Linked DNA regions of Homo sapiens: all the other regions are reported to be linked to region 1. The links are microRNA targets in miRTarBase. Many come from high-throughput screens and were not tested one by one. Region 1 holds a microRNA gene; each other region holds the end of a gene's coding sequence.

What was found. Region 1 holds the annotated microRNA hsa-miR-548a-3p (CAAAACUGGCAAUUACUUUUGC, at 3,966-3,987, shown strand). A microRNA usually pairs through its seed, bases 2 to 8, with sites in the 3' UTR of a target mRNA and lowers its output. Matches are read on the target gene's strand: a 7mer-m8 pairs with bases 2 to 8, a 7mer-A1 pairs with bases 2 to 7 and ends in A, and an 8mer does both.
Region 2: the mRNA of ERP44 is a reported target of hsa-miR-548a-3p. Seed matches in the 3' UTR shown: 7mer-A1 at 6,133-6,139, 7mer-A1 at 5,019-5,025 and 7mer-m8 at 3,027-3,033.
Region 3: miRTarBase lists ECHS1 as a target of hsa-miR-548a-3p. Seed matches in the 3' UTR shown: 8mer at 1,234-1,241.
Region 4: the mRNA of GRAMD1C is a reported target of hsa-miR-548a-3p. Seed matches in the 3' UTR shown: 7mer-A1 at 5,822-5,828 and 7mer-A1 at 5,541-5,547.

The regions. Positions count from the first base shown.
Region 1 is chr8:104,481,251-104,488,370 of GRCh38, reverse strand. It overlaps MIR548A3 (microRNA 548a-3), which reads left to right and starts at 3,906; the gene lies at 3,906-4,002. It overlaps LOC105375691 (a long non-coding RNA gene), which reads right to left. Exons shown (of 3, transcript XR_928507.3): 3 at 4,084-4,122. RefSeq lists a silencer at 5,584-5,784.
Region 2 is chr9:99,976,217-99,983,336 of GRCh38, forward strand. It overlaps ERP44 (endoplasmic reticulum protein 44), which reads right to left. Exons shown (of 12, transcript NM_015051.3): 12 at 2,969-6,497. The coding sequence ends at 6,396. Among named protein-coding and RNA genes, the nearest start is that of STX17, 73 kb to the left of the region's middle.
Region 3 is chr10:133,356,927-133,364,046 of GRCh38, reverse strand. It overlaps ECHS1 (enoyl-CoA hydratase, short chain 1), which reads left to right. Exons shown (of 8, transcript NM_004092.4): 8 at 1,114-1,562. The coding sequence ends at 1,179. FUOM (fucose mutarotase) reads left to right here and starts at 6,028. Exons shown (of 6, transcript NM_001098483.3): 1 at 6,028-6,124; 2 at 6,792-6,860; 3 at 7,034-7,104. The coding sequence starts at 6,040. RefSeq lists silencers at 4,605-4,767, 5,800-5,879, 5,930-6,549 and an enhancer at 6,700-6,799.
Region 4 is chr3:113,944,895-113,952,014 of GRCh38, reverse strand. GRAMD1C (GRAM domain containing 1C) reads right to left here. Exons shown (of 18, transcript NM_017577.5): 18 at 4,841-6,617. The coding sequence ends at 6,537. It overlaps ZDHHC23 (zDHHC palmitoyltransferase 23), which reads right to left and starts at 4,002. Exons shown (of 5, transcript NM_001320466.2): 1 at 3,825-4,002; 2 at 3,052-3,329. The coding sequence starts at 3,212. RefSeq lists silencers at 3,420-3,519, 3,870-4,369 and an enhancer at 4,084-4,584.

The DNA of each region.
Region 1 (7,120 bases):
CATTTCCATATTATTTGGGTATGTTTCTACACTGTATTTTCTTCTGTTGATCTGCTTTTCTCTTTTTGTACCAATCCTTTATTGTTTTAATAACTGTGATTTTTAAGTGTTTCAAATATTCTTATTTATATTTCCATTTGAATGACAATCAATTTGTTGAGTTCCACAAAACATCCATGGGTACTTTTTTTTTTTTTGGACAGTTTTAATTTTATAGATTAATTTAGGGGAATTTGACATCATTATCATGTTAAAGCTTTTTATCTAAACCATGGTGCACTATCTAAAAATCATGCCCCTTCATCTTTTTTTGTTTCCTTCAGATGAATTTTACACTTTACAGAGATCTCATACATTTTTAAGAGTTTATTTTTTTTAATTTTTACATTTTATTGCCTTTATTAATGAAATCCTGTTTATAATTTTGCCTAATTTTAGTGCATGTAAAGGCCAATTATTTATGTTAATTTTCTACCTGGCTACCTGATTCCATTTTTTTGTTGTTTTTAATAGTATTTCACTTAATTAGTTTGTGTTTGCCAACTACACAGTCCTGTCATCAGCAAACACTGATAATGTAACCATTGTTACAGTTTGCATTCCTCTTTGTATCTTAATTGCATTGTCTAGTACTTCTAAAATAATGTTCAATAACTGGCTATAATGAATTGAGTTGAGATAGATTTAATCATATTAAGGAGTATCAACTAATCCCTAGTCTTAAAACTTTTTAAAGACTGCATGTTTAATTTTATCACATGCCTTTTCGACATCTGTGGAGATGATCATATGATTTTTTTTCCTTTGATCCTTTAAGATGAATTTTACTAATATATTTTGTAATTTTGCACTATCATTACATTCTTTAAATAAATTCTTTTTGGCCATGTGTATTTTTTTAATATATTGCTAGACTGCACTTCATATTTTATTTAGGATATTTGCACTTGTATTAATCAGTAGTCTATAGTTTGTGTGTGCATGCATACACGTGTTCACTTTGAGAAGTGTAGTATTTTATGCTTGTGGATTTGGAAACTTCCCTCCTTTTACAATGCCCTAGAACAGTTTAAATAGCATTGAAATTTTCTGTTTCTTAAAATTTCAGTGAAATTATCTGGGTTTCATGGATGTTTGGCAAGCAGCTTTTTGACAACTTTGTTGGTATCATCTAGGTAATTAATCCATGTAGTTTTTATATCCTATCTGGATCAGGAACCATCCATTTAATCCCAAGTTTTCAAATTTATTTGCCTAGTTGAGGAAAGTTAACTCTTCGTCTTCTATGCATGTGGATGTTGCCCCTTAGTTTGTATTATGCTTTCTCCCTTATTTTCTTTTTTTTTTTTTTTTTTTTTTTTTTTTTTTGAGACGGAGTGTCGCTCTGTCGCCCAGGCTGGAGTACAGTGGCACGATCTCTGCTCACTGCAAGCTCTGCCTTCCAGATTCATGCCATTCTCCTGCATCAACGTCGTAAGTAGCTGGGACTACAGGCGCCCGCCACCAGGCCCGGCTAATTTTTTTGTATTTTTAGTAGAGACGGGGTTTCACCGTATTAGCCAGGATGGTCTCGATCTCCTAACCTCGTGATCCGCCTGCCTCGGCCTCCCAAAGTTTCTCCCTTATTTTCTTGATAAAGGTAGCTAACAGTTTACCTACTTTTTTAATTGTGTATTTTTTTATTTTCCCCAAACCGCTTGGATGTCTCTATTCTGTAATTTTGTTCTTTCTAATTAGTTGATTTCCACTTTAATAAGTTTTCCACATTTTGCTTTCCTTGGTTTATTTTGTTTTTTTCTAACTCGAGTTAGCATGTAATTTATTTTTACTTCTTAATTCTTAAGAAGAGATGAAGACATGGACTTAAGTGTGAGCACTGCTTAAGGCGAATCATTTGGCTGCATTAATGTCATTACTGTTATTTTCTAAATGTTCTTAAGTTTCAGTTTTGATACCTTCTTTAATCCAAAAGTTGTATAAAAGAAGTTTTTTTCTTTGCTTTTTTTTCTAGATAATGATAATTTTTTGGTGTGAGTCTTAGTTTTGTTTTCTGATTCTTTTCATTTTATGGCATCAAAAACAGAATGTTAAGAGTATATGTGTTGGGGGGGCGGTTATTGTCTTTCAATTTTTAAATGTCCCAAGAGCACTTTTAGAAAGTGTGTTATTTCTTTACAGGATACAGATTTTAGTGGGAGTTACTCAGATTTTAGATCTTCTCAACAGGATACAGTCCTTTGTCTTGTCAGTCAGAGCACCAATATTAGTAGGGAAGAGAATGGAAACAAAAGGAGCTGTTATCAGAAGGGATCTATGGGCCAGAAGCCCTGTTACTGGCTCATGTCATACACTAGCACTAAGAATATAAAAGCACAGGATGAAGGGGTCTTTCAATAAGCTGTTGAGGTTTTAATTCTCACTACTGCTTACCACCGTCATCCACTGTTCATCTGGAAATAAGTGGGTAAGACAGGCTAAATGGGATAAAGGAAGAACAAGTTCATTGAATTCTCTAAGTGTTTATTGAGCACCTACAACAGACCCAGCAATGTTCACAGCAGTTTACAGCGGCCCTCCTTTCACCTGCTCCACCATTCCCTCACACCTTTTCCCCCAAATTTCCAGGGGAGAAGATGACAGCAACTTGATAGGACCTGCTTTACTCAGGAAGGTCCCTGTTTAAAAATTAGTAGAAGCAGGCAGTAGAGAGAAAGGCCTTTTCTCTGAATACCTGAACTCTTCTTCAGGAATAGCATACAAATTGCAAATTGTATATAGTTATTGGCATGAGCTGATAGCTGGCTGTGATTGCATTTGTTTCCTAAGGTAATCAACATTCAAGGTAGACAAAGGATGCTAAGTAAAATTCACAGAATTTTAGAGCTGGAAGGAATCTTAAAATGAAGTAACAGACATAGCTGTTTAGTCGGGAATTTTCTAGACTTAAATCAATTATATACCCATATTATGTTATACATACAGGTAAACATAGGCCATGTATGCATACATGGTTTACCATCATGTGATGTCATGAGGTTTTTTCCTATTAGAAGTCAGGCCATTCTGACATTTTTGCACGTGCCTGCTCCTAAATGAGTGCATCCCACACCGTGATGGTATTCACACCATCAAATGCTATTCTGCGAGCCTTTTACCACCAGCTGCTTCTGCATTATAGGAATTTTCAAAGCAATAATATTTGCCCATTGTTGAGTGCCTATCACCTGCCAATTTCTTTATATGTATCCTTGGAATCTTCACAGTCCTGTGAAGTAACAAACTTACCTTCTATTTATCCAAGGTCATATAGCCAATAAGGGCAGAACTAAGATTTAACCTTAGTCGTGCCTGACTCAACAGCTGTGAATAAGATGGATCATAAAGTGAAGTAAGATTTATCAGGAGAAATATCTATCAAGCTGGAGTTGACAGACCTGGATTATTATGCCAACTCACTGAGCCTCAGCTTTGTCATCTTGAGGTAAGGATAATAGCTTCTTCATAAGATCATTGTGAGGAATAAAGATAACGTGTAAAGGCCTTAGCACTTGTTCTGTCCATCTATTGCTGCATAAAAAACTACCCCCAAACTTTGTGCTTAAAGCAACCACAATCATTCAGTTTTCTCACAAATCAATAATGTGGGCAGAGCTCAGTGGTATTGGCTCATTCTGCTCCTCTTGGCCTCTGCTGGAGTTGGAGAATATACTCCCCAAAGAACTCACCTGAGTGACTGGCAGGTTTGTGCTGCCTGTCAGCTGGGTGCTCAGCCAGGAGCCTGGGATCCTCTTCATATGAGTCTCCTCAAGGTTGCTTATGTTTCCTTAGAGCATGGAAGCTGGACCCAAGAATGAATGTTACAGTATACAGAAGCTGCAAGGCTCTTATGACAGAGTCTCAGACATCCTAGAATGTTATTAGGTCGGTGCAAAAGTAATTGCGAGTTTTACCATTACTTTCAATGGCAAAACTGGCAATTACTTTTGCACCAACGTAATACTTCTGCCACATTCTACGTGTCAAATCACTGGCCAACCCAGATTCAGTAGGAAAAGAAATAGACTCACCTCTAAATAAAAGGAATAGCAGGTAAGTCATTCCATCTTTACCCCAGCACAGTACCTAATACATAGCAAGAAACATTAAGTTGCCATTATTAATATTTTAAGTAGAAAAAGTTTTACAGCCTTAGAAATGTATTTGCTAAAAGGATATAAAATTAACTCTGCTCCACTGTCATGTCAGGCATGTATGTGTATCTCATATCTGTTTATTACAAATACAAGGATAAAACAATTTGCCTTAGCATATTCAGTCAGAAATCACAGCATTGATGCAATTTTAAATAAACATATTTAGGCAGTTGGTAAAATTTAAAGATTAGCAGTTATTTCTCTACATTTAAAATAACTTGTATTAATATTTCAACATGTTGTAACCTATAAAATGTTTATTTTAAAATTGCTTAGAGGCAACAGTATAGTGCGTAAAAGTCTGGAGTCAGATTGCTTGGATTCTAATTTCTGTCCAACTCCTTACTGGCATGTGCCTTTCAGGAAGTCAATCACCTGTACTTCCATTCTTCATCTGTAAAATGGGGATAATAGGGCTACTGGAGGATCAAACAAATTAATATACATAATGCTCTGGGAACAGCATTGTAATATACACATAGCAGCTCTTGGCTTATAGTAGGTGCTGTGTAACTGTTTGCTATTATTGTCATTGTTTAAATGTTAAAACATCTGACCAGGTACGGTGGCTCATGCCTGTAATCCCAGCACTTTGACAGGCCAGGTGGGCAGATCACCTGAGGTCAGGAGTTCAAGACCAGCCTGGCCAACATGGTGAAACCCTGTCTCTATTAAAAATACAAAAATTAGCCGGGTGTGGTGGTGCATGCCTGTAATCCCAGCTACTTGGGAGGCTGAGGCGGGAGGATTGCTTGAACCCGGGAGGTGGAGGTTGCAGGATCCGAGATCACACCACTGCACTCCAGCCTGGGTGACAGAGCAAGACTCCGTCTCAAAAAAATCTCTGAATCTTACATTTAAATAAGCTATCGTACATGAAAAGTTCTAAAATAATAGTGGTTTCTGAAGAGAAATAGAAACAGATCATTTTCCATTTCTTATGTGTGCTTATTCCTGGGATCATGAAAGTGAATTGCAACCCAGAACAAAGGTCAATAAGAGAGCAGGGGAGAAGAAAGGATAACAGCCCACTTGTGATAAGTTAATAGAATTCCAAGACCAAGCAGACACAGATGAAAGGATCCTGCAGAGTTCAGGGGGCCCAAGGAAGTTACCTTAGTGACAGGGAACTAAAGCGAGGTCTTTACAGAACTCCTAGATCCGGATGTTTTTCAGATCACGTTGTTATCTTGTTGTAGCAAACACTACTAATTTGCATACCCAGTATCCATGAAAAGAAAAGCCTCATTTTAAGGGTGATGGAAAAGGAAGAGAAAAAGCCTGATTTCACTGAGCAGTTGCATCAACCTTGGCCTGGCTATCTCTGGACTTCTAGTTCCATGAAAAAAATAAACCTGTATGTATTTAAGCAACTGGTAGGCTTCTCAGTTACCCATGGAGTAACCTTCTTAACCAGTCTACTGGCTCTTAAGTCAGGAATAGTAACGGTGGAGTAGAGGATTAAATGAGATGATGTGAATGCAGCAGAACAGTGATGAGGAGGCACATATCAATGGAGCTCAATCAATGAGTTCAATCAATGTAGGTGCTCTGTCAATGTAGCTCCAGTTGATGGGTTCTCTCAGTAAACTGCTCATCCTTGTGTTCTCCTAACAGCAGTTCTATTTATATGTTGGACTTTCCTGCAAGATTTCATTTGAACAGAGGGTTTTAAGGATTAATACAATTTGAAAACTAGTGTTAGAACATCACAGGACCAAGTCGCCTTCTCCTACGTAGGACACACCTGGTTTACTGAGAATGAAATGAGAATTTGCTTAGAGTGTTTTCCAGTAAGGATACTGAGGTGTCAATTAGGGCAGGTTTTCCCATATGTTGGAAGGAAGCTCAAACCCCAAAAAGCTTAATATCCCCCAAAAAGTGACTTGGAAGCTTTACTAAGGAGAAGTAATAGAGTACAGTGAGATGGAAAAGCATGGGCTTTGGAGTCAGGCACATCAAAATTTGAATTGTGTCCACTACTAAAGAGGTCTTTTTTTTTTTTTTTTTTTAGACCGAGTCTTGCTCTGTCGCCCAGGCTGGAGTGCAATGGTGTGATCTTGGCTCACTGCAACCTCCGCCTCCCGGGTTCAAGTGATTCTCCTGCCTCAGCCTCCTGAGTAGCTGGGATTACAAACGCACGCCACCACGCCCAGCTAATTTTTGTATTTTTAGTAAAGACAGGGTTTCACCATGTTGGTCAGGCTGGTCTCCAACTCCTGACCTCGTGATCCGCCTGCCTTGGCCTCCCAAAGTGCTGGGATTACAGGTGTGAGCCACAGCACCCAGCCTAGAGTTTTGTAACTGAATAAATCACTTGATTTTCTTGTCTCATCTGGAAAATGGGATCACACCTACCCTTAAGGGTTACCAGTGAAAAGATCAAATTTTTAAAAAAGCAAGAAAAAAATTATGCAGAAGCCTTTCCTGGAGCTTTACGCATAGAGATTGAAAACAAATTTTAATTGTCAATATCATAGATTCACTTTCCAAAATAAAACAGTATTTTAAAAGAGCTCCCCTATACCATGTATTAAGCATTTTGTGTATTACTAGAGCTTTCTGAAAGAGCAGGTTTCTTATAATAGCCACTGTCCTGTTTTCTTGGTTATAGGGCAACTTGTGGCTGTATCTCAATGAAAACTAACTTCACTAAACAAAGGTAGAGTGATGTCTTGGCTCACTCCTTTTTATTATTTACAGAAGCCAAAATAAAGAACTTCCATGGAGCCCTAGAACAGAAAAGACGTGGCTACTTCCTGTGGGCTTAGCAACATATGTTGAGCTCGTAATAATAACAGAAGTTATGATAAAAAGCAACATATAAACAATATTCAATGGAATATTCTCAATTGCATTATAATGGGAGCAGCTTTTTAAGATATTTCTGTATTACTGCTGAGCTCTGATTTCAAGTGACCCTGGAA
Region 2 (7,120 bases), not on the chromosome of region 1:
TCCTACCTTGACACCTTGCTATCTATCTCACAGGGTGGTTATGAGGATTAAAAGACTAAATTCATATTCAGTGCCTAGAATAGTGCCTGGCTTCTGCTAACTGTGCAAATGTTAGTTGCTGTTACTGTTAGAATTGTTACTATTTTTTCCCAAAGTTTAAAGGAAATGCACATTAATTTAAAAAAGGTATCATGTACCTACAAGAATAGTGTTAGGGAGACACCTAAAATGAGTGGAGACTTGAGAAATACACTAAGAATCCTTAAAATGATTTTTTCAAAAGGCTTTATTAAGACGGTTCAAAGATGACAGATGCCTGGTAGAAAGTGCATCTTTTTCATCTTTATTAAGAATGATATCCAAACATGAAAATATGTAAGATCTGGTTAGGAGCAGGGTGATCATACATCCCAGTTTGTCTGGGACAGTCCTGATTTACATCTGTTGTCCTGGTGAAATTACTAATGCTCCCTTTTCATCTCAATGTCCTGATTTGGATGAATACAATTACATGGTCACCTTAGTAATAAGGGCAATGAAAATAAGTGTGGCATTATTAAAAAAAAGAGCATCTATATTTTAAAAGAATTGATCATTTCTAGGCTCAGATAAAAAACAAAATCCCAACGTTAGTGGGAACGTATACATGCAAGTTAAATTACTACCAGTAATTGTGAAAAACAAGACAATAGAAAATGTTCCAGAACACTGAGCTTGGGCAAAAGGCTAAATTTAAGGCGTAAAAGCTGGATTCCAGAAGCCACAGACCAGGAAATTTACCTTTGAATCCTGGAAAATTTCTGAAATGGACACTTAGTGTTTTAAATCAGAAAGCCGTGCTCATTCTGAAGTCAGAATTGATCACTCAGAATTGATGACCTGTTCTATAATCCTTGCTGTGTGCATAGCCAGGAATGCCATGTTCTATTCCCCTTCCTAGGCAGTAGCTAGGGCAAGAAAACAAGGCATCAGGATTCTAATATTGATCTAATCCTATGTAGGCAAGTTTATACAGGGCACCAGGACAGTAGGCATGTGGTTTCTTCCCTGGTAGCCATGGCAATAAGTAAAACACATGGGACATGTTGTTATTACCTGAGAGGACTAGAACTGTGAGAAAAAAACAGGTCAGCAATACCTAACAATACTTTTATTACAGTAAGATAATAGAATAATGACAGTCTTTATTAATAACAATTCTCCTGGAGAAGAGCCTGATGTGCTTAGGAAAGTATAGCTCTTTCTATTCTGAGCAAGAAAGCACTTCCTCTAGGAAGACTCCCAATTCCCAAGGCTGTACACACCTACCTCCATGTTCTCTGCGACTAACTCACATCCTAGCACCTACAACATTCCATTATTTACACATCTATTTTGCTCCTTCACTCAACTTTCAGCTCCTTGATGGTAGGTACAGTCTCCTTACTGTTAGATCTGTAGCCTGGAAACAGTAGATAATGCTTGCTGAATGGCAGATGAATGGTGTTTTGAAAACCACAACAGGGATATTTTGTCAACTCAAGTCTGTTGCTCCGTGAGGCCAAGCTAGGGGTCAGGTTTACCTCACAGCAAATGTGGAGTTCAGAAATTTTCCAGCACCTCTGCAGGACTCTGCATTACCCAAGAGGGTATTCAGATGTCATTCTGATAGTTATGTATCTCTGGGTTGGTGCGCACTGTAAGATTTTAATCTATTCTAGACAAAAACTCTTAGGACCCCAAAGCCGGATTCAGATACAGGATTAAAGGTGACTAGATTCACCTAAACACGATTTGTGATGGACAGAATCATCAGATAATTGAGATTTGCAGATTAACCAGTAGAGCTCATTCCACTTACGGCGATGCTTTCTTGTTCTTTATTCATTTGCTCACATACTTATTATTTAATTTGGCCTTTTTTTTTTTTTCCATCAGAGATTTCCTGAGTACTTTCAGTGTCACCAAGTGCTGGGATTACAAAGATAGAGGAGTTCGTGCTTTCAGGGCATTCACACAGTGATAAGGAAGAGAGATACGTACACTTCTAACTCTGAATTAGACTGGGTACTCTAAAATCCATAAAGGACTGTGGGATCACAGGGAGTGACAAGTGTTATTAGGCACTAAGGATGAATAGGAGGAATTTACTAAGCAGGGTTGGGGGAAGGGGTCTTTTAGAGAAGCAATTTGTAAGCTGCACTGTTCCTCTTCTGGTGACTCCAAAACCTATTGTTTAAGGGCAGGCCAGCCTTTCCCCAGTGTGTTCTTCAAGAGGGAACTTGGATGCTTGCTTCAATGAAAGGCTGGGTTTGAGTGATCACATGGATTCATATAGCTTCCCATTCTGATCAGTACAATTAAATTACCTGGGAAATAACTTTAAATCTGAAAAATCTAGCAACTGTGGTCATCTAGATTCTGAGTAAAGGGTTTACAATATGATGTTATTTATAACAAAGTGAATTAGTAAAAAGTCTCCAATATAGAAATATTTTATAAATATAATTTTATTACTTGGAAATACATACAAAAATTCAAACACAGCTAAAAAACAGTTGCTAAGCAGAGGTCCTATCCAACCTGGTTTAATGAACATAAAGTTATTATCAGCATAAAACTTGAGTCCTGAAACAACTTACTGTCTTCAGGGTCTTCAAATAATGGGTTTAAAAACAGATAACTGTTTTGTTCTTTACAGCTATTTAAATCTTTCCCCCAAATACAGAGTACTAACATTTGTTTGGTTCATGAGGTTTTATTTTAGAAAAATAGCTAAAGCTATTAGCTAATGATTTGAAAACTGCAGTACGTTTGCTCATTTCCAGTCTTCTGTCACCTTACATTCTCCATGGTTTCTCAAAAATTCCCAACAGTTGTTAATAGAAAGCATTTGCAACCTCCAGCAGCTCTCTAGGATACAGAAGTGTGGGTCTAACAACCTTGAAATCATTTAAGGTGACAACAATTTTTTTTTTTTTACTTTTCATTTTTGCAGTTTCATGTCATTTTATTTTGGTCCAGCCATATCTCCTTGTAGGAGAAAAAAAACTGAGTTATTCTGTTCTTCCTGATTGTCAATCCATTACACTACTTTATCCATTCCTTTTTGCCCTCAGGTTTAAAAAAGAAAAAAAAAAAAGCCTTCTTGACAACCTTAGCATTTTCTATAAATTTAAGCTTATTGTGAGCTTGAACATTTCAAACACTTCTATATTTCACTCTCCTCTCTGTAGCTTTTGTCATGCCAGTTTTCCCTTCTTTTGCAAATGATCTTTGACAACCTGGCTTCATCAGAGAGCTCTGAGATGCCTTAGATGCCCATTCTCTATCTTATTGGCTAGGTTCTTTTAATTTAAAGAAAAAAATAATTTGTAGAATGTCATCTAAAAGTTTCCATCCTTTTATGGTCCCCCTCACAATTTGAAAAACTCGAAGAGGTAGCTGGCTAAGAAGCAGAAAGGCCCCCTTTTGGTTCTGGGGACTCAACCGTGTTCTTCAGTCTGGTCTTGCATCCTCTCTTCCCAGCTGAGAAGCCTGAGGCCCCGAGTAGATCAGATAAACCGGGGAAGACTTCTACCTGAAATGGTCTGATTCACGGTTCAGAGGGGGAACAAGTCTAAATTTGAGACGTGCTTCCACACTATTCTTTCTCAAACTTTAAAGTGAACATACTTCCTTGCTTGCAATCTGTTGATGGATCTCTTCTGCCTACAATATATACTACAAACCCCTTAGTCTGGCACACAAGGCCCTGTGTGACCAGCTCCCATTTCTTTTTCTAGCTTCCCCAACCCCAAATGCCTTACTAAAAGAACTTTTTTCTCTAATGCATTAGGCTGTTTCATACCTTTGCTCAGATTATTCCCTCTCAGCCAGATCCCTACCTCCTGAGAACACCTATTCATCTTTTTAAAGCTCAAAATAAAAATAATGTCCTCAAATCTCTGCAATTGAGTGCTCCTTTATGCCCTCTTTAACCTTTATTTTGTCTTTACATCTATAACACGTTACAGTCATTGTTTACATATCCATATGCCTGACTAGGCTGTGAACAACTCTAGGGCAGAAATAATGCTTTATTCAGCTTTACATCTTTCATCATATACTACAGCACCAAAAAACTTGCACTGAATAAATGTCAGACTGAAATCTGCTTCCCTGTGACTTCCTCAAATCCTAGTTCAAGCCCTGGGATCCAGATAGACAGTGCCAGCATTTCAAATAATATCTAAAGACTGTCCCAGTCCCAAGTCTTCTCCAAGCAAAACAGCCTTAACATCCATGTTTTAAAAACCTTTTTATCCACGCTGTCCTTTCATCCAAGCACTTGAGCTTAGTGACTTTTTATAAAATTAGGCACCAAGTCCTAATGAGTGCTGAGCCCCTCAGGGTAAAAAAGTAACCAAGGTCACTTTGCTTCTCATTCATTAAATAAACGCCTGATGGTGACTACTAAGTGTCCAGAAATTCTAGGCACTAGTGATACAGACATTAAATTTAGTTTCCTTGTCCTCAGTGACTTCACAGTCCAGAGAAGACAATGATAGTGGCAGGGCTAGAGCCTAAGCCCAATATGCATGAATGCTAAGTAATACTTCCTCAAATCAACTCCCTTTTTAACAGCCACTTTATCATCTTAGAGCATACTGAACACGTACTCCTTGAGGCCTTTTTCATAATAACTACTCTCAAGCCAGCTCTCTGCAACCTAACCCTTGAATTGTATCTTTTGTTGATTATTTTTTCAAACCCAGTTACAGGATTACTATATTATTCCAGTTGATTGCATGTGCTGCTCTTGGTCCTGTGTGCTACCTTGTTGAATGTGAATTTCCATGCTGACCCTCACAGATCTGGTCCATAATCTAACCTGAAGACCATAACTCTAACTTCATTTAACTTATTGGTTAAAAGCAATGAGGATAACAGAACTAAGGCCCAACCTCTAGAAAGCTCCATCCTACTTTCTTATTCACAATTTGATACAATACATTAAATATACCCCTTATCACCTTATTAACATTTATTATTTTGAATAAAACTATGGAAACTTTGGATAAATCATGCATAACGAGGAATTATAAGCTGGTTTTTAAAAATAACAATCATTAAATATCCATTATAAATATTAATTTTATTTTAAAAGAATTGGAAGATGTTACATATATTACATACTACATATAATGGCACATGTCAGCCTTTTAAGCTTAAAAATAATCTTTTCCCAAACTGGGATTGATTTATACCCAAGTATAAAATGACCCTTGGCCTATAGCACCAACCCAGGCCCAGAGGAAAAGCCAGTTTTGAACCTGTCTGTCCTCTGGCACTGGGCTTCCTGATATGACACTGAGGGTCCTCTCCCTCTGGTTTTATTCCCTGGCAGTATTGAGGCCTGGCACAGGGACCCATCTTACTGTATGCTGCAGGCCTGGGGAAATCAGGGAATCTAGAGGGGGTAGGGTCCTCTAACCATTTTATAATGAAAAAAAGTTAAATATGTTCCTTATTCTGTGTTTTTGATTTATACAACTATAACAAGACTCTACAAGACAGAAGGAGCTTAAAATTACTGAAATACAATTTCTCTGCTAGTTCTTCTCTTTGGAAATTGAAGTCTCATAATAGGAGGAGCCTTAAAAGTCATCTAGTTCTGATTGGTAGCCTGTTCCACTGTCACCTCCCTGTCCCAGATTTAGGTATAATTCATTCAAAGTTTTAAATGCCATCCATATGCCACATTTTTAGACAAACACAGAAGCTTAATAATACTTTTCATTTTCTTTTTCTTGTTTCATAAGGACAATTCCTGCCAAATGTTCTGTCTTATGACTCTCCTCCACTTCAAAGTATGTTTAAGTTACACATTAAGAATCCAAAAAAATACCACTATGGAATTTTCATAAGCAATATCCAACCAATCAGTAAAACACAGTACACAGTGTGAAAACTTTAATTTATTCCCCTCCCAAGTATCCAGAATGTATATCTCTTTAGCTTTGAGAAATGAGATACTGAAAATACCAACAGAATTGATCATATGAAAGAAAGAAAAGCACATACGACACAGGAAACATCCCTAAGTCCTCCCTACCCTAGTAGTGCAAGTTAATGGTAAGTTTCTGGCAATGTCACCTTTCATTTGATTTATAAAACTTTTACAGGACAGATTTAAAGTGGAGATAGGCCTCTGATTTTTATTTTTAAATCCTAGCAGGTTTTTTTTTTTTAAGAGGCTACTATATTAAATGACAATGCATTTTGAGTCGGGGAGAAAAAAATTAAAAACCCAAAATTTCTTTCTGTTTATTCAAAATAAAAATACACATAGAATTATGAAAATATAGGTTTACTATTTCCACCACGTAGGTTGATGCTGCTGTTGAAAGGCTTACAAACTGTTTTTCAAGTTTTTAAAGCTCATCTCGATCCCTCAATAGAGTATACCTATATTCACTGGGTGCTAGTTTCTGGAAGGAGCTCTCAGGTGGACTGCTTGCTACATCTTGGGCTTGCTACAAAAGAAAGAATAAAACATTTTTATACCAATATAGTTTATGGTGCTATAATATTTTAATAAGTGTATTCGATGAATAGTAGTTCCCCTATAATTATTTGCTTATTAATCAATAAAAGCAACTGTGTGCCAAAGCAAGATATTTAAATGTGAAATCTTGCTTTCCTCATTTCAAATGCTCTTATTGAGATTCTCCAGGGCAGGGTTGCCACAGGGCCATTAACTGTGGGCTTGTTTTACATTTGCTGAGGTGTGGTGGAAGGGACCAAAATACCTGACACCTGGGTGCTTTCCTAGACTAGTCGACAGAGACAGCACAACCCTAGGTTGGCCCAAACCCTTCCCTTCTGCACGTGACTGCTAAGAGAATTAATGGCATCCACTCTGTAGATATTATCTTAGTTATCAATTACCAGGATACCAGAAATTATTACAACTTAGTTGAAATAAAGAGGAAAGCAAACACTTCAATGCTGAAAGAAATTAATTTCTGTAGTATTTTACTTGTGTACCAAGAGCAGACAAAAATACACAGTGAAACGAGCTATTTCCAAGAATTTTAAAGAAAAGGCATAATCCCAGCACTTTGGGAGGCCGAGGCGGGTGGATCATGAGGTCAGG
Region 3 (7,120 bases), not on the chromosome of region 1:
CTTGAACCCAGAGGCGGAGATTACAGTGAGCCGAGATCACGCCACTGCACTCCAGCCTGGGAGACAGAGTGAGACTCTGTCTGAAAAAAAAAATGTAACTCATTTTACCCATGTTTTTTTAGATCATTCCAATTATTTGGAATAGGCTCAAATGTATTCTAATAAGATAAGCTGAAGCTTTAGAGCAATATTTTATAAGATTTCTGCCAGTAACTTAAAGTAATTCCTCTAATTACCATCATAATTTTAATTTTCTTCCCTTTGAGGCAGAGTCTTGCTCGGTCGTCCAGGCTGGAATGCAGTGGTGAGATCTCAGCTCACTGCAACCTCCACCTCCTGGGTTCAAGTGATTCTCCTGCTTCAGCCTCCCGAGTAGCTGGGATTACAGGTGCCCACCACCACACCTGGCTAATTTTTGTATTTTTAGTAGAGACAGAGTTTCACCATGTTGGCCAGGCTGGTCTTGAACTCCTGACCTCAAGTGATCTGCCTGCCTCGGCCTCCCACAGTGCTGGGATTATAGGCGTGAGCCACTGCACCCGGCCAGATTACCATTTTAATTCATGTCTTTCACTGGGAGAAAGTCATACTTCGGTGTTTTAATTGTTCTATAAAATAAAAATTAAAAGTGGTTTGGGCACCTGAGGAAGGGGTACAGATGCGTGTGTGTGTGTGTGTGTGTGTGTGTGTGCGCGCGCGCACACCTGGGGACACACGTGCACACAGTGTAAGAAAAGCAGATGCAGAGTTGAGTTCTCACGTCCTACTCCAACACAGAGTAGCCCCTGATACAGGCCACCCATCATCCAGTTGATGACATGGTGAGTGACCAAGATGGGTGCATCTGAGGCTCTTTAGATGTGAGCTTGTTGGACATACACAGTGGCTCCTGAATGACCGTCACCTAGACTGGTAGAGAGAGGCCGTGAAAATCCCCGCGCCCAGGCCCAGCTCTGATTGGGCAGGTGTTCCTGCCGCTGAGTCCCCTCCCCGGCCCCCTGGGCCCCTGTGAGCATGAGTGAGGCAGAGCCAGGGAGAGACGGGCGGACATTGGCATCAGGCTCTGTGAGGATACTGCGCGTCCAGCTCTGTTTCTGTTCCTTTTCCTGCCAGGATGACCGGAAAGAAGGGATGACCGCGTTTGTGGAAAAGAGAAAGGCCAACTTCAAAGACCAGTGAGAACCAGCTGCCCCTGCTTCACACCTCTGCTTGGAGAGGACAAGTGCAGCCTGTCAGTTTTAGAAGCAAGTAAATCATCCTCTTTTCAAGAGCAGTGTCCGTGGTGTGCAGTTCCTCTCCAATTGCTGCGTGGTCGTGGCCCGACCTCTCACGGCATGACAGCCTTCGTCACCCAGCCTGTGAGGGTCCTGACTGGAGCACCTTCTAAATCTAAGATTCTGCTGAGGAGCCCCCGCTGGTCCCTCTGGGCATGCTGTGCTCGGACGGAAAGCGGGGCCTGCGGGTCCTTGTGTCCCTGCCGCTGAAGAATGGGGCTGCTCTGAGGGAAACGCTGTCTGCTGCCTTCATACAGATGCTGATTAAAGTGATAGCGATTCAGATTACACCACGCCTTGTAGTCATGTCTGCAATGAGCATTCTGTCATGTTAGTTGTTTTTTTAAACTTTTTTGTTTTTTCACTGTAAGGAACAACATTCAAACAAAACAAGTTTGTATAGTCAGTTGCCTCACATCATACTTCCAGGGTAGCCACTGTGAACAGCTGGGCTTGTGACTTCCTAGAGTTCTGTGCACGCACCCACACACCCCTGCACACGGGCACAGGCATGGTCTATGGTTTTCTTCCACGCCCACTCACGTCGAGCCCTTTCCTCACGAGAGCCCACCCTATTTTCTTCCTACTTCTGTCATAAGGAGCTCTCTGTTCAGTTTACTGCATTCTTCTCTACTGTGGGAACACACGACGTCAACTTGATCATCTTAACCACTGTGTTTTAGAGACGGGCTGGAGTGCGTGGCTCAGTCACAGCTCACTGCAGCTTGAATCTCCTGGGCTCAAGTGATCCTCCCCCCCTCCCAAGTAGCTGGGACCACAGGGGCGCACTCCCACACCCAGCTGACTGTTTAAATTTACCTTTTGTAGAGACGGGGTTTCCCCGTGTTGCCCAGGCTGGTCTGAACCATTTCAAATGCACATTTCAGCGGCATTAAGTACGTTCTCGTTGTGCAGCCATGACTATCCAAGAAAGCTTTCATTTTCCCAAACGGAAACTGTCCCCGTTAAACAACAACCCCTTTTCTGCTTCCCTCCAGCTCCTGGCACCCACGCTTCTACTTCCTGTCTCTATGGAGGGACCTCCATTTATCCCTTTGGGTCAGGCTCATTTCACTCAGCCCCACCCCAAATCCCTGGGTTGAAATCCTAACCCCTACCGTGACTGCATTAGGAGGGGGGACTTTGGGCAATGACTAGTCACAAGGGCAGAGCTCTTCGAGTGGGTTTAGTGTCCTAGGAGAGAGAGGGTGGAGCTCCTCCAGTGGGATTAGTGCCCTATGAGGGGGCGGAGCTCCTCCAGTGGGATTAGTGCCCTATGAGGGCAGAGCTCTTCAAGTGGGATTAGTGCCCTATGAGGGGGCAGAGCTCTTTGGGATTAGTGCCCTGTGAGAGGGCGGAGCTCTTTGAGTGGGATTAGTGCCCTATGAGAGGGCGGAGCTCCTTCAGTGGGATTAATGCCCTAAGAGAAGGCAGAGCTCTTCCAGTGGGATTAGTGCCCTATGAGAGGATGGAGCTCTTCCAGTGAGATTAGTGCCCTATGAGAGGGCGGAGCTCCTCCAGTGGGATTACTGCCCTATGAGAAGATGGAGCTCTTTGAGTGGGATTAGTGCCCTATGAGAGGGCGGAGCTCCTCCAGTGGGATTAGTGCCCTATGAGGGGGCGGAGCTCCTCCAGTGGGATTACTGCCCTTAGGAGAGCCCTGAGGGCACTCTTTCACCCCTCCCACAATGTGAGTGCTCTGTGGGAAGGTGCTGTCTGTAAACCAGGGTGGGCCTCATCACACACCGAACCTGCCTGGAGCCTTGGCCTCCAGAACTGTGGAAAGTCAGTGTTTATCAGCCACCCAGACCATGCCACTGCATCACAGCAGCCCAAGCTAAGGCACATACTGTCCAGAAGGTTTGTGCCTGTTGTGGCATGTTTCACCATTTGATTTTCTCACTAAATGACAGTCCTATAACATTCTTTTTAGTGGCCCTGACGTTTCATACTATGGACATGTCATCATGCCCTTGGTTCTAGGTATTTCCCCCAGGGAAGCCCACCTGCCCCCAGCTCAGTGCAGACGCCAGAGAGCGTTTGCCGGTGTCTCCTCCACTTGGCCCCGCAGCTCAGTGTGCGTAGGTGGTCTAGATTGTGGTCATGGCCTTGGGTTGGGTGGGCAGAGTGTGTGAGCCCCCACCGCTGAGGACTTGGGCTGAATACCAAGGACAGGTTCACCTGCATCAAGAAAGAAGAACAGTGATCTTTGCCGAGCTCTGGTTCCCTGAACGCTGCAGGTGCCACGCCCGTGTGTCCGGTTACATGTACACGCAAAGGGGACACACGCATGCTCTGCGACCGCTTGCCTCGGAGGCATTGGCTCTGCACTCCCACCCACCCCGTCTGTCCTCCTGTGTGCTGTGATTGGAGTCCACTAGTTCAGAGCCGGCTTCAGGGTGGAGCAGGTTTATCTCGCTTCTGCCAGGGCAGGTGGGAGTTCTCATGCAGTTGGCCTTAAAACAGGCGGGAGATGTTCTTTTCAGATAAGCCTCAGATAAGCCTTGGGATCTGGGACTGTTTGACAAATACTGAAACAGGTACAAAGGGAGTTTGATTCAGGTCCAACAGGGCATAACAGGCTCTTCCCTTGGGGTAGGGAATCTGGAACCTGCTCACTTACTGGAGTGGAGCACGTGGAGTCTGCGTGGGTCATGAACCACTGGCCCTGGAGCCTGGAGTAAATATGCAGAGATAGATAGGCACCAAATGTTCAAGTATGCAAGGGAGGAAGCCTGAACATTGAGAAAATCCACTCCGTTTAATTTTTCATGTGCACTGGGGTCAGCCTCCATAATCTGATTTCAAGCAATGGAACCTCAGAGATCCGTAGGGCTGGCTGCAGCCTCACGTTCATACCTGTGTCAGCCACACTTGGCTGGAAGCCAAGAAAGGGCCCAGCATGGAAGCCGCATCTCAGAGGGCTGCGTCTAGTTATCTGGTTCCAGAGCTTGGCAGGGACAGACACCCAACCCTTAGGCTGGGGAATGGACTTTGTCTTCATGCTGGCCCCAGGGAGCCTGGAGGGAGGGGTGCCACTGTCCGGGGCAGGGGAACCCCAGACTCAGAGTGAGGCTTCCACTCACTCCTGAGCTAGTTGACCTCTGGCCCCATTATTGTTTGGGGTTTGATTAGGTGTTTTTTCTTTGTTGGTTTTGTTTTTTTTTTTGAGACGGAGTCACTTTCTGTCACCCAGGCTGGAGAGCAGTGGAGTGATCTCGGCTCACTGCACCCTCCGCTTCCCGGGTTCAAGCAATTCTCGTGCCTCAGCCTCCCAAGTAGCTGGGATTACAGGCACCAGTCACCATGCCTGGCTAATTTTTGTATATTTTGAAGAGACGGGGTTTCACCATGTTGGCCAGGCTGGTCTCCAACCCCTGACCTCAAGTGATCCGCCCGCCTCGGCCTCCCAAAGTGCTGGGATCACAGGTGTGAGCCACCGCGCCCGGCCTGATTTGGTTTTGAAGCTGAAAACTTTCTTGCCCATCTCTATAAAATCCTCTTGCCCTTGTATATTTGGGTAAACGGTGACTCTCCACTTACAAGTTGGAGTAGAAACTGCCCAGGTACAGCTCTGAAACCCGGTGGCCTCGGTGCAAAGCCACCCCTCATTGGCAGGCCCTGGGCAGCCCCGGTCTTCTCTCTGCCCGAGTGGCCGGCCCAGGGCCAGCTGTTCAGGTGCTGCTGGGTGCCAGCCTGGGTGGCCCCACCAGGCTTTTCCGACGCAGCCCAGGCCACTTCCCATGGGGACAGGCTCCTAGGGCCAAGCAGTTCAACATGGAGACGTCTGTTTCCTCCTGGTTTTCTGACGCGGCTTTGTCATTTTTCACATACAGATTGATTTTCAGAACTTTTTAGGAGCCGCCAGGCCTCAGAGCATTTGTGTCACCTCAGGGCTGAGGGCCAGGGCCGCAGTGCTAGCCCCACAGCTGGTGTCCAGCTGGGAATCATGTGGAAGAAGGTGGTTCCGCGGAGGGAGGGCCTGGCCAGCCTGAGCTCAGCCAAAGGTCAGGATGCCGCCATCCTGGGCAGGGGGTTGCAGGCCGCTGACACCGGGGGATGATGGAGGACCCTTAGGTGTCCTGGCACTTCGCAGCTGAGCCTGGAAGCTGGGCCTGGCTGCCCTCCTGGACTCCCCCCAAGGGGGTCCGAAGTCCTGGCTCCCGTGTCCCTTGCTCCCGGTCCCTCAGGAGCGTGGGCTGAAGGCCTGGGTCCAGCTACCCACCATGGTGACCCCAGGGACCCGGTGCGCTCCGGGCATTCTGCCAGGCCTAAGGGCAGCACGAAGTGGTCAGAGGGCAGAGACCCTCATGAGGGGAGGCCGCGGCGGTTGAACCCCTTCGGCCTGAGGGAGCTCGGGGTGGGAGGCTCGGGTAGGGACACTGGGGAGCCCCCGGCCACAGCGCAAGGGCACCCGAGTCTCGGACCTGGCGAGGAGCCCGTGGGCTGGCTGGGTGTTGCCCCCACGCCACGACTCAGCCCGCACGTCCCCAGTTCCTGGGGCTCCCCGCCCTTCCTTGAGCCGCAAGCGGACCCCAGCCCGCCGAACCCTAGGCCCGGCCCGTCCCCAAGCCCCAAGCCCGGGACCCTAAAGCCCCGCCCTCCAATAAAGCCCCGCCCTCCCCGTAAAGCCCCGCCTCTGCCCCTAAGCCCCGCCCTCCCCGTAAGGCCCCCGCCTCTGCCCCCAAGCCCCGCCCTCCCCGTAAGGCCCCGCCCCGGCCCCCAAGCCCCGCCCCTAGGCCCCGCCCGCCCCGTCTGCCGGGCCATGGTGGCGCTGAAGGGTGTCCCCGCACTGCTGTCCCCCGAGCTGCTCTACGCGCTGGCGCGGATGGGGCACGGGGACGAGATCGGTGAGCGCAGCGGGCCGGGGCCTCGGGGAGCACCCCGGGACAGGCAGGAGGGCGAGGCTTGCACGGGGACCCCCGGGCCGGGAAGGGCCGCGTCCTGGGGTGTGGGCGTTGCTCGGGCCTCCCTGGCTTCCGGGCAGGAAGCCCCCTCCCCCGCATTCTTTAGGGAACTGAGACCTCGTGGGGCTCTGGGCGGAGCCGGCCCGAGCTTCTCCCGGAGTCCCTCCCCAGACGGCCCGAGAGCCCTCGCGTCTGGGCTGCCCCCGAGGGTTCGGCGCTTTTTCTTCTCCTGGGGCCTGGGGTCCCGGGGCAGGGGTTGGGTGGCCGGGGGCCTGGTCCGGGCATCGCGGGCAGCCGCGCGTCCTCTGGCCCCTGGGGAGGCGGCCGGGTCCGGGTCGGCCCCCTGGCCTGGTCAGCACCCGACAGCCTCGCGGGCAGCTGTTGACGCCTCTCTGCCTCCCAGGCAGGGACCTTGCCCTCCCCACCTCCCCGCGTGGCTTCCAGCCCTGCGGATCTGACTGCGGCCGGTCGGCGGTGGGGGCGCCCAACTGGCTGACCTGAGACCTCTTGTGACCCACGATCTGCCGCCATGACTGGGTGGGAGGACGGGCGGCGCCGACCCCGAGGGCAGGGATAGGTGCCGACACGGGCTGTCCTCCCGGCTGTTTAGTTCTTGCGGACTTGAACTTCCCGGCCTCCTCCATCTGCCAGTGTGGGCCCATGGAGATCCGTGCAGACGGTGAGCGAGCCCCAGGTCCCCCAGGGCAGGGCGGGCGGGTGAGCGGTGCTCCTGGCTCTGAGGCTCCTCTGTGGCCTGCCGTGGCCCCAAGTCCATGCTTGCAGTGTGAAGGGTGCAGACAGGCAGGCGGGCGGGCGGGCTGGAGACTGAGTGCTGCCTCCTCTGCCCTCCAGGCCTGGGCATCCCGCAGCTCCTGGAGGCCGTGCTGAAGCTGCTGCCCCTGGACACCTATGTGGAGAGTCCGGTGAGGGCTGAGTCGC
Region 4 (7,120 bases), not on the chromosome of region 1:
CAGGCATGCGCCACCACGCCTGGCTAATTTTGTATTTTTAGTAGAGACGGGGTTTCTCCATGTCGTTCAGGCTGGTCTTGAACTCCTGACCTCAGGTGATCTGCCCACCTGGGCTTCCCAAAGTGCTGGGATTACAGGTGTGAGTCACCGCGCCCAGCCAAAGAGAAATAATTTAAAGACAAAACTCATAATCAAAAGGGGAGTAAAACAAAGATTTGGAAAATTCTCAGCCTGTCTATATTGTAACAAATGAGAAAGCATGTTTGGGAGAGAACAGCAAGGATGTAGATGAGATCAGTATGGATTAGCCCCGTGCCAGTCATCAAGACAATGGAAGGACCCTGAAGGCATTCGGAGATCCTTGGGGCTGCTGCTCCCACCACAAACCTGAAGTGCCAGGGCTTTGAGGGCAGACAGTTTCATAAGAGGGCCCAGGGCACCCATGGGGCTTCAGGGTGTACTGCTGAGTGCCATCTGAAGTCTCTGCTCCCTACATTCTGGTGCACCCTCCATGGCAGCTCCAGGTGTGGCTCCACTGGGCCTAGGTATGCCATAGAGGCCACCCCTCTGAAGGGCATAGGTGGTAAATCTTGGTGGCATCCACAGGGTGCCAATGCTGCAGGCATCCAGAGTGTAGGAGCTGTAGAGGCCTGGCTGCCTCCACCTAGACTTCAAAGGATGCCCTGGAGAGCCTCGGGACCGAGGCAGAGGACTGCCACAGGGGTGGGGCCACCACAGAGAGCCCCCACTAGGGCACTGCCCAGTGGAGCTGTCATTGTGGTGGGGCCACTACAGAGAGACCCCACTGAGGCAATGCCTGCTTGGAGCTGTGGGGACAGGGTCACCCCCAAGAGCCCCGTAGAGCCACAAGCATACAACTCCAGCCTGGGAGAGCTGGAGGCACCTGTAGGAACTCCAACCCATGAGAGCTGCAGTGTGGGCTGTGCGCAACAAAGCTGTGGTGGCGGGGACACCCAGAGCCTTGGGGGCCCAACCGCCAACCCAGTGTGTCCAGAAGGCAGGACATCAAGTCCAAGATTATTCTCAAGCCTTATTAAGGCTTAACATTGTTTGCCCCACTGGGTTAGGACCTGTCAGTAACACTCCTTTCTTCCTGTTGTTCCCTTTTGGAATGGGAATGTCTATTCTATGCATGTCCTACCATCGTATTGTGGAAGCACCTAACTTGTTTGATTTCACAGGCTCACATGTGGAGGAGAACTTGTCTCAGGATGAATCGTATCTTGAAACTCATCCATATCTGATTTGGATGATGATATTCAGACCAGACTCTGGACTTAGACTTCTGAATTGACACTGGGATGAGCTAAGACTTTTGGGGCTATTAGGATGAAATCAGTGTATTTTGCATGTGAGAAGGACATAAATTTTAGGGAGCCAGGAAGTATCTGTGTCCCTCCAAAGTTCATTATGTTGAAACCTCATTCCCAATGCAATAGTATTCAGAGGTGAGACCTTAAGGAGGTGATTAGGTCATGAAGGCACAGCCCTCATGAATGAGACTTGTGCCCTTATAATAGAGCCCTATGAGCTTATTCACCCCTTCTGCCATGTCATGACACACCAAGAAGGTGTCATCTATGAGGAAAAGGGCCCTCACCAGACACTGAATCTGCCAGTGCCTTGATCTTGGATTTCTGAGCCTCTAGAACTGTGAGCAATAGATGTATATTGTTTACAAATTACCCAGTCTCAGGTATTTATTTTATCATAGCAGCCTGAACAAATTAAGACAGGCTAGTAAGAAAAGGTAGAGTTTAAGGAAAGGTAACTTTGATTTTAGACAATTTTTAAAGGTAAGACTAGAACTTAGAGATAACTAATTGGGAATCATACAGAGCAGCAGGCACGGTGGAAACACAGAGGAGAGGGGTACAGAGAGAGCAGAGGAGATGCCTCAGGGGACAGCCAAGGTCTCCAGGGCTAGGAGGGAGGAAGAGTTAGCAAGGTTAATGGAAGAGCTGCGGTCTTGAGTGATGGTGGTTATGGAAACAGCATCATTTCTCCATTCATTAGTGCAAAGTGCTCTATTTTCTCAGTATAGATTTCAGACTAAATCTAAAGAACCTATATTCAAAGACATCCATAAAAAAGACTACACAGTACACTGTCAAGTAAGAACGACAAAGGGTTCACTGGGTTTTTAATAGTCAAGGCTGGTACTAGACTGCAGACCCCAGGGAATGCTTTTCATGGCTGTATTAATGTATCAAGTTCTAAGTCAACAAATTGGCAGTTGCAATGACTTTTTTAACCAGAAATAATTATTAATGGGAAAAGCAAGTTTCCAACATCCCTATCCTTCCCACATTATGACTTCCATTGACAGTGATTTTTAAATATATAATTACTCAGAAAATGGATTAAAACCAGATTATTCACTGTCCGACACCAAATTTTTTCAGTGATGTTAAAAATTCTCTTTTTGGATAGTAATTTCCATCACTTGGAAAATAAAAGCCAAATACAGTATGATCAATCAAGAGTGTTGCTGGTCGCACTGAAAACTGTGAATCCAGGGGAGATACATGCCTTCTGGCTGGAGTTCCTCCCCAGAAACAAGGGGCAAGACCAGTACTAACAGCAGGAAAATGAAATTTCAACCCACAAGGCCCTCTGTGGTCAGGTGCCACCCAGTCCCAAGTAGTCAGTCTCTAAATGCTGAGACCTCTGAGAAGGCAGGAACTTTCTGGAACTATTGTGTTCATTTTAAACTTACAGATTCTGCTGGCTTGCATTTTATTTTATACTAACTTGCCTACTATCCCTTTAAACTGCCTGTTCTCTCCCTCATCTCTCTTTAAACGAAAAATAATATCCTATAAAACAGAGCAGACAGACAGCTGTGCACTACTGCGTAATCCATCTTTCTAAAATCCTCACACTTGACACAGAAGCCAACTCTCATTTTAGATGCTTGGAAATAGAATCAAGAGCAAATTCTAGCATTCTGGGTGGCTAGGTTGAAAGTACACATGGCAGTTCTCAGAAGGGTGATGGGGCCAGCGTCAAGAAATGCTCTGTTCTTACCGATCACACCCTTCATCCAGATCTTGACAATCACACAAACAAGTAGCCACGTGGTTCTTTTCCCCATTCCGATCTATGTACTCGCAGCAGCACAGGGGCTCCAATTCAGGTTCTTCGGTTTTCTTTTTCTTCACAGGCTTCATACTGCCCTTCTGTGTCATGATTTGCACCTGTCACCATGAGGCGTAAGAAGCCCTCAGAAGGTAAAGGTGGAAAGAACACAACTTACATCTCGTAAATAGGTCCACGCCTCTCTCTCTCTGCTTAACCTCCAACGCCTGAGCAATCAAAAATGAGAAGAGAGAGGGGGAGGGGGTCCCGTTTTCATCAGGCTTCTGTGGCTCCGCCTGGCCACACAGGGGGCTCCAGGGTTCTTGGAGGTCTGAGCTGCCTTCACCGCCCCTTCCCAGCCTGGGCAGGCGCCGTCTGGGCACCAGCCGTTCCTATGGCGACAGCCGACCACGCGTCCGGGACAGCCGGGGCGCGGGCGGTTGCGCTCACCTGCGGGTGCAGGCTGGGAGGGCCGAGCGGTCTCCGCTCCAAGCCTGGGCGCTGGTGGGAACTCAGCCTCGGGGCTATAGGGAAAGGCGAAGCATATGCCCGCTAGCAGCGGCTGACACACCAGGCTCCCTGGCAGTGCTCAGGGGTCGCGGTCCAGCCCAACTGGTCGGGCCCCTTGCAGGGTGCGCCTCTCCCGCCCCCGCCAATCCGGAGGACGTGGGCGGGCCTCGCGCACCACCCCGCCAGGAGAATGACCTTGGAAGGGAAGTTACCTGCCCTCTGGCCGGAGGTGCAACTGCAGCCAAAGAGGCGGAGGGGAGATGGGTCGGCTTCCCCGGAGGCACAGACGCGTCTCCCGATCTCTGCTACGCGGAGCCCCGGGCGTGACGGCAGGAGTCTCCGGGACCCGGGCTCCGCTCGGCCGCTCCCTCGCCGCAGCCGCCCACCTGTGACCACAGCCCGCCGCGGCCCGGGCGGCGCGCCCGCCTCCCCGCGCCGTCCCAACCGCCCCTCCGCCCGCCCGGCTCGGTGCGCCAGGTCCACGCGCGCTTCCGGGTGCCCCGCCCCCGGCGCCGGGGTTCCCCGCCTGTCCGCACGTGCGCCGCCCGCCTCCCCGCGGTGCCCGCGGGCGAGGCTCCTCCTCCTGGCCCGCGGCCCTGGCGCCGGGAAGGGGAAAATCGGCTCCCGAGAGCGCGTCCAGGAGGCAGGGGCAGGAGGTGGGTCCCGCACCTCCGGCCTGCCCCGCCACGCCACGCCCCGCCCCGCCCCAGAGGCGGCAGCCGGGCGCCGCCGGTGCCTGCGGGCGGCGCGCCGGTGGGACAGCCTCCGGAGCCCCGGGGTGCGGACGAGGTGCGGAGACGGAAATACGGGAAACCCGGGAACCCGGAGGATTTCCGAACTACGTGAGACCGTGGAGCCGCCAGCCTTCATTCAGACTCCGGCAACAGGCGGTGAGGGAGCTTTCCACCGCAAAATGTTATCCAAGTACCTCCCCCAGTTTCGCTGACCTTCTCTTAAAGGCCCATCACTGCTGCCGGATCTGTTCATTTAGCAACCTGTTCGTTTCATGATTTCTGGCTAGCAGCCTTTACATTGGACCAGCAGGCCTCGCTAGTACTTTTGTTCCAGTCGTCTGTGTATTTGAGATGAAACTGCCCTGAGATGAGAGTCCTTTTTGGGTTTTATTATTGCACAAAATTTCTTTAAAGAGTGTGGGCCCATGTACACGTTTCACTACCGCAGGCTTTCTAGTTTTGTTTTTAAGTAGAAAAAGAAGAAAAACTACAACTCAGAAATTTTCAATTTTATTAATATTCAATTTACGTAACAGGCTCAAATTTTATTAATTGAATTCTGCATCCATACGAATTTAGTCTTAATTTATAAAGCAACTTACTTCGATACTCTTCCTTGAAGTATGTTATAAAATACAACGTTTAAATAAACATCACAAAAATATTGTTTGTCGATCATTTTTGTGACTTTAACAGAGAAATCTTCAAGTTTATAATCCACTCATTCTTGCTTACAGCCAGACACTACATAAATCCTTACCAAAACAAAACAAACCCAGGTAGGTTCACTGTTACCCCTAGGTATGCTTCGTTGGAATTCACCCAGAGAAACCCATTTTCCCTCTAACGGAGTCAATACTTTCATTCTCTACAGGCATCTCAAAAATGACTATAATAATGCCATGTGGCTTTGGGGACTCTGGAGAAAAATGAAACATTTAATTAAAGGCAATAGTTGTTCAAACAGTAAGAATGTATACACAGTTTATATATAGATAGATAGATGGATATGTATTTTTTCCCCAGAGAAAGGGCTCAAGAGACAAAACAGTAAAACACTTCAACTTTCCCTAACTCTTGAAAAAATATCTGATTTTAAGTCAGTTTACAAAGTTCTTATTTTAATGAGCCACTTGTATGGAGACACATATGCATAAAAACTTTTTATGAAAGAGCCAAAGCTTGCATCTGAGTTAAAACTTGATAGTCAGTACACTTGTACTGGGACATACGTGCCCCTGAAGTTTTTATTAAAGAGCTAAAATCTATGTCTGGCTTATAACTTACCAATCAAAACAAGTCACACACATACATAAAGAAGGAAGCCATACATGGTTACTGAAAATACACAAATTATTTTCAACCAGATGTGTCACTTCCACCATGAAAGACTGCTAAGCTGAAGCCAATCTTAGTTCAAGTATGCATTTGATCTGTCACTAAATGCCCAGATTTTAACATAACCTTCTGGTTTTTAAAACTCAGAGGATGGTTCTTCCTTTTGACTGTTGGTATTCTAAGTGAGGAGGCAAGATAATCCCACCTCTGATAGTTACCTTAAGAAAAAACAACTATTTCTTTCATAAAGATACAGCATGGCAGAAGACCCTTTCTGATAATCATCATCAACATGCAGATTCAAAAAGTTTGACTATTAAATTTGCATGCTAAATAAATGAAGACATTATAATCTTTACAGTACACAAACCTGGAAATGTTATATGCCTGAAAACAGAACCTTTAAAATCAGTAATGACATAGAGGTTTCTTCTTATATTGTCCTGTTTATCCTCTTGGTCTTATCTCAGTTACAAAAGCGACCTATTGGACATGTACGGATTCTGTGCTAACAAAGCATCAGACTTCACTGTAGAAATGAGACCATACCACTCAATTCAGGGTGTGTCATTTTCTTTTTGTATCAGAGAAATTCAGTTCTATAATATATTTCATGGTTCACTGAAGAAATTCACAGCTTAAAAATATCTATAAGAAGTGAAAGGATGGATTATTAAGGCCAGCAGAAACTAATTATCAAATAAATGTTACTGAAAGAAATGTTCATATTAGAAATCTCAATAATGAAAAAACATAGAAATGTTCTATGCCAAAATCCTTCATTCGTCTGGTTTTCTTCCAGGTATTTTCTTTAAGTTCCAAGTATCTCTGCGGTTTTAGTCCTTCAGATCACTAGCTTTCAACAGCCATGCCAGTCTTATTCTTATTTAGTAGATCAAACGTTTTCTGAAGCATAATGAGTGAGCTCTTCAGCTGTAAACAAAGTTAATTTTCAAAATCAGATTAATTTTTCTAATCAGATTTGAAAATTTCTGTTTTTTATGCCCAAAATTTACAGTGACACTTAATATAGTTTTGTTTATACTGATGCCCAAATAAAACGTTAAATACAAAATACCTGATTCTTTGGGGTATCTATCAGTATGATTGCTACAGAGTTCTTCCCATTTGCTGGAGTATTGTACTTCTTCCTACTGCTACATAGTCTACCTCCCAATAGGTCCATTAATCAAATTAAGCGTAGTGACAGACTCGTTTTCCTAAAAGATTTCTGAAGTTGCAGTGGTCTCCTCACTATCCCCTAAACAACTCAAGTTTGCTTCAGTGCCTTTGCATGCTCTCATCCTCATGTTCTTCACCTAAAACTTACTCATATTCACACTCTTCATGTAGTTTTCCCCAGTCATTCTGCCTATAAACTCCCAAAGCATTATCCTTACTACTTAACACTTTGACACTGAATTTTGTAATCTTTG